Regions from separate parts of the Homo sapiens genome. Here region 1 is linked to region 2. Evidence: fine-mapped expression QTL. A gene starts in region 2. The other region holds a variant in brackets. All regions are shown on one strand. Distances are from middle to middle.

Evidence for each region.
Region 1: its variant is fine-mapped to the expression of FERRY3 in monocytes after LPS (Kim-Hellmuth 2017, PIP 0.95).

The regions. Positions count from the first base shown.
Region 1 is chr12:4,486,873-4,489,747 of GRCh38, forward strand. FERRY3 (FERRY endosomal RAB5 effector complex subunit 3) reads right to left here. Exons shown (of 14, transcript NM_020374.4): 14 at 863-2,875. Among named protein-coding and RNA genes, the nearest start is that of FGF6, 42 kb to the left of the region's middle. The variant A/C (reference allele first, on the strand shown) is at 1,443.
Region 2 is chr12:4,536,618-4,539,539 of GRCh38, forward strand. FERRY3 (FERRY endosomal RAB5 effector complex subunit 3) reads right to left here and starts at 1,852. Exons shown (of 14, transcript NM_020374.4): 1 at 1,792-1,852. It overlaps RAD51AP1 (RAD51 associated protein 1), which reads left to right and starts at 2,273. Exons shown (of 9, transcript NM_006479.5): 1 at 2,273-2,339. The coding sequence starts at 2,323. RefSeq lists enhancers at 1,487-2,096, 2,097-2,705 and a silencer at 1,832-1,881.

The DNA of each region.
Region 1 (2,875 bases), 50 kb before region 2:
AAGCAGCCATTTTCACCTAGAAACTGAAAAATAGAAAATAAAAAGAAACTGAAAAATAGGCCTGAGGCTCGTCTCTAACTTTAGTGGGTTCTTTCTACAGTTCTGTGAATTCTCCCTTAGAGCCTCTAGAAAAGAAATGTTTCTGTGATTTCATCTTTCTTTTGTGAAACATGTTTTCTTCTTGTGAGAATTAGCCAGGATCCAACTGAAGTAACACAAATGATGGTGTGTACTGTGCCAATAAGAGATCTGCCAACTCCCAGGCAAGCTCAGTTTCTTCCCGCTGAAATTCTTTTTCATGCATTTCTTCCATTCTGGTCACACTGTCATGCTGAGAAACAGCTGGTGCCACACTTCTAGATCAATGGCTTTGCTTGTGTGGTGCTTCGAGAGCAGAAATGGGGGAAGGGGGGGAAAGAGCAGCACAGAATGGAGACCTCAGGTTCAGTGCCTCTGCCTGATTTCCAAAGCACACTCTTAAGGCCTTGAGGGCCATTTAGGAATATGTAACTGTTTATACAAATAGAAAACTTCTAACTCACAATCCTCACCAATGTCAATGTTTGTGCTAATCTCCCCATCCTCAAAGACTCTCGTGGTCAGCTCCTCTCAACTTACTGGCCATTTACCACTGCCTCCATTCTGCTTCTGCTCCTATCTGCGCCTTACTCAGTTGTCCCTTGGTATCTGCAGGAGACTGGTTCCAGACCCCCTGCCAATATCAATATCCCTGGATGCTCCAGTCTCATATAAAGTGGTGTAGTAATTGCATACAACCTACACACAGCCTCCCATATACTTAATCCGTCTATACATTACTTATACCAAATACAATGTAAATGCCATGTAAACAGATGTTATATTGTATTTTTAAAATTTTTATTGTATTTTTTTTCAGAATATTTTCCATCCACAGTTGGTTGAACAGAGTGCCATCTGTACCTAGAATGCTGTCTCAGCCCAAGGTACCTTCTTCACATCATTCATGAAGTGCTTTAAACCACTCCCCCTCAAGAAGCCCTTTAGAACACTCAGAAAAAGATCCTCATCTCATAATTCTTGGTCCAAATACAAAACTCCAGACTCCTCAATTACTGCATCACTAAAATTCCCACCATTTCAGTGCATATAATTAGCTTTTTAAGTTATATATTTATTATTAGCTTGGTGTTTGTGTGTTTCCATCAGTGGTAACACCATAAACATGATTCTTCCAATTTTACTACTTCTGTAACACAGTTGCATGTGGAAAACGGACATTCGATAAATTTATCCTGACTTCACATGCCAAATAGTACCTTTACACAGCCCTCAGTTAAAGCCACCAGTTTATAAGTAACTTAGTGGAATAGCCTAGAGGTGACAAAGGAAGAGTTGGGCAGCAGCATTCAACAAACATCCGTGAATGAAACTTTGCTCCTCCATTCCGATATCTGGGCTGC[A/C]CTGATCTACCACTCTCCTGGTTTCTGCCTCTGTCTTCCCTGCTTTGCATTAGAATCAGTCTCAGTGATTAACAGTGGTGCCTGAAAGACAATTTCTCCAAGAGAACTGTATAGGCTCTAAGGGCAAAACACCTGCCTTCTTGGCAGAATCGCCAGGCTCCCTGACAAATAATTTGGAGAGTTTTAGTGTCTAATGGACATACTGCTGGAGTGGGTGTTCTTAGGGTTGTCTTTAGTGTTGTTACCTGGACAAACCTTTCCCTCGAGTAGAAAATTAAGACACATTCTGTTATAGGAAAGCACTCTGCTTGCCAACAGTTTCTATAATAGTTATTACACTGAGGCATATTAATGAAGGGCGTTTTGTTTCTTGTCATCAAGACATGCCATCTTATGACACCAAATGCCCTCCATTTCATTCTTGTGGCCAGTTACAATATCCACATAACTTGGAATTGATGAAACTATTGCTTTTCTAAACACCTGTGTGCTTTTGTAAATGCCTTTGTTTAATGGAGTTACTACTTATAGCATTTAAATATGTTATAGATGGGACAAATATATGATATGTAGCACCTGAGAAAGTAGTACCATAAGGAAAAACAATGGAAAAGGAGGGGAAACAGAGAAGCAGAAATGGGGATACATTTATCCGCAAAAAAATGCAAGAGGTAGAGGAATGGTTAAGCAAGCTGAGAACGCAGGGAGGACAGAAATGTAGAAATGATCTTCCTTGTGTGATTGTCACAATGTTGATGAGCACTAAAATACTGCCAGGTGCTGGTTTAGACTAACTTGACATCAAGCTTGCAAAAAAGAACACTATTTCCCAGTCCATGAAATGTTATTAATATGCAAGTGCAAGGGCACAGCGGGAGGATGAGAGAGAGGGAAAAAATCCAAAACGTCTTCTGACTCTAACTTGTACATCCTTAGGAGTAGATTAAAAAGAGATTCTGAAACAGGAGAATTTAAAAGAACAAGCACATTTGTCTTATACATTTGTGTTTCTATAAAAAGATTTTCACAGGAAATTTGTACTTGCAATGTATATTTCAGTGCTTTTACATTTTGTTTTGGCAAAGAAAGTAAAAGGAAAATTTTGTTTGTATGTTTAATTAAGGATTGCACCTGAGACGAGTCAAGCCTCTTGAAAAAGTCAAATGCCTCCATGTAAATATAATCAAGTTTCCTTTCCCAAGTGTCCATGTGTGATAAATAAAAAGTTTTAGATTACTAATATTCACAGGTAACACAGAGAAGAAAAAAAGAGAAATTCATAAAGAGACTTTAAGTGTTTAAGTTAGGGGTTGATCACCAGTTTGTGCAGTATATAAATTTTTGGAATGGTTTCACACACATGTATCTTGATTTGTGGATTGAGCTGCAAGTTCTCTTTCTGGGCATCTTTTGCTTGACAGATTCCCAGCATA
Region 2 (2,922 bases):
AGTGATCCTGGAGAACTTAGAGGTTGTGGTCATGAGATCCGACTGGGGGAAGGGGAGTAAGAAAGTGTTAGAAAGATTTCCATGTGGGAAGAAGATACACAGAAAAGAGAGAGTACAGGACCTCCACTTCCGGCCCACACCCCAAAGGCAAACTAGACACTACTAAGGAAGAAGAAAATCTAGTTAAAGGCAGTAAGAATCAACATCAATTAAAGATTTATTTATTCATCAGCCTTGTAACTGGACTTCCTATGGCTAGGCTTTCTCCCATCAAATCAGTTCTTACATTATTTTCTACACTGAAGTTATAGTAATCTTCCTTTTTAAAAAAGGAATATACTTATCTGATCATGTTGTTCATCCGCTTAAAAACTTTCTATGACATTCCATTGCTCTCAGGATAAAATGCAAACTCTTTATCCCAGTTTACAACACCCCTGCTTATATTTCCACTCTTCTCTCAGAAACTGCACCTCTCCTTCCTAATACACAAATTCACAAATTTTATTTTCCAGCCATTCTGAACTTCTGTCAACACCAAACTTCTCCTTCCATGCCGAATCTTTTTGAATGCCTTTTCCTTTGCCTAGAGCACTCTTACTGATCTTAATTTCATTGGATAACAATTGCTAATTCTTCAGGTCTCAGTTAAGCCTCTAGGAAGACTTATCCAACTCCCTAAAACTGGATTGGGTCCCGACAGGCTCTCATATTAGCCTAGACTTATTTGAATCATGGCACTTATCACGCTCTATTTCTTACTCTTGGCTAGAAAACAGTCTTCTTGAAGTGGAAGGAATACTGTCTTGTATTCCATGTATTAGGCAGGATGTTGCGAATGGCAAGAACTAATAAATAATTGTTGGATTGTATGGCGTTTTTATTTTATGGTGCTCACTGGAAAAATAAAGAACAAAAAATTATTCATACGGTTATTTAAAAAGATATCACCTGAAATATAAAAAAAACTCAAAGGACTTTTGTACATGTCGTGGGGCGGGGCTAAGTTGAATTATCCAGACTATATTTTCAAATCTGTATGTAGGCTATACACAAAAATCTTCGTCTATTTCACCATAATGCAAAGAGATAGGGTATTTGTTTTACTCAGAAAGAATTAAAATTAAACGTAAAGCAATACAAATTTTTATAATGTTAGAAAACTACCAAAACTACATAAAGGTATATTCTATGATGTAGAAATTTCATTCCTAAGTATATATCCAAATACACACACACGCATATGTTCGCTAAAGTACACCCAGAAGAATGCTCATATAAGTTTTATTTATAATACCCCAAACTGGAAACAACCAAAATGCGTATTAGTAGGAGAATAGTAAACTTGTTTATTTTATGAGATAAATACTACACAGCAATAAAAAAGAATCAACCACTGATAAATGCAAAAATATGAATGAATCAGGAATGTTGAAAAAAAAAAGAGAAGGCAGACACAAAAGCTCTGGTTCAACATTTAGACTTGTGTTTCAAGAAACTGATAACTTTAGTTCTTTCTCCTCTCGCTCTTTTTTTAGACTAATGGTCTATCCTGAAGCCTGGGTTCAGTTTTAGCAACCGTGAAATCCAGGAAGGTTTCCCATAAGAAAATGGGATGGAAGGTCTGGACCGAACACACACAGCCAACAGAGCGGAGGCTCTGAGGCTCACATTAATCAGGGAAAAGGAAGACAGACGGTCGAGCTGAGAAACTTCAGCCGGGTGAGGGGACTAATCCCTCTGTAACGGTTGTCAGTCTGAAAGGGCATCCTCACTCGGTTCTGGGCTCACCTCGTCTAGTTCCGAAGTCCTGGGCAGTCCGCTCACTCGAGCTGTCAGCGCGTCCTGCACTGGGAAACCAGCTGACTTGCCGACATACTTTTTCCACACCGCGGATCCGCGAACGTAGATTCGCCACATCCTTTTCTATTTCCTGGCATCTTGTAGAAAATTTCTCAGTCCAAGTGCCCCTATGTCCCAACCTGTTTCAATTTAACAATTTGAAAGGTGCAATAAGGTGTATTTCTATTGTTATTCTGTATTTCAGAGACAGGGCAAATCCGCCGTTGTGACGAAAGTGCAGGGACAAAGCACAAACTCGGCTCTGGTGGACCGGATACGGAAAAGCGGTGCCTTGGGGAGGGCGGGAGCAAATTCGCTTTCCCCACAGCGCGTGCGCCGCCGCAAGCATGGCTGGTGATGATTGGACGACTGGTAACAGGGGGCGGAGGGCTCCGAAGTCTGGTTTTGGGCGGGAATTGAAACCGCCGCTGAAGCCAACAAGAATTTGAGAACTGTAAATACCAAGCCTTGAAAGGGACCATGGTGCGGCCTGTGAGGTGGGTAGTTCCTGACATTCGTCGGGGGTGGGAGGAAAACTAAGGGAAAAGACATGAGACTAAGGGGAAAGGATCGAGTAAGACCGGAGGGCAGCGATGGTGGGGTTAGGATGGACGGTTATCAAGAACCCAGTCTCCAGTGAGAGCCACCCGTTGCTCAGAAGTATCCTAGCATCGTAGCTTTTTCCTTCTCTTTGCCTCCCTTCACAACCGTCGCCGTTTCTTTTACCAAGACCTTGTTAGCGTTTGAACAGCGCTTTACATTTCACCGAGCGCCCAATTATGTGTTATTTTATTTGTTTATCACTGTAGTTATTTGATATAGAAAGAGTAAGCATTCCTGTTGTATTGATTTAACATTTCTACGTATAGAGGGTAAGTTATCTGAGTCATACAGCCCAGTAAGTGGCAGGGCAATACTCAAACCTAAGTCATCTCACTCAAGATCCTCTGTGCTTTCCATCGTGGTATTAGAAACGATTCTTCTATTTACACAGTTGAGTGCCATGGAAGCCTATAGTTAGCCATTCATTTAATAAAGTTATTGAATATATTCACTTCTTTAGTGTACGAGGTGCTGGAG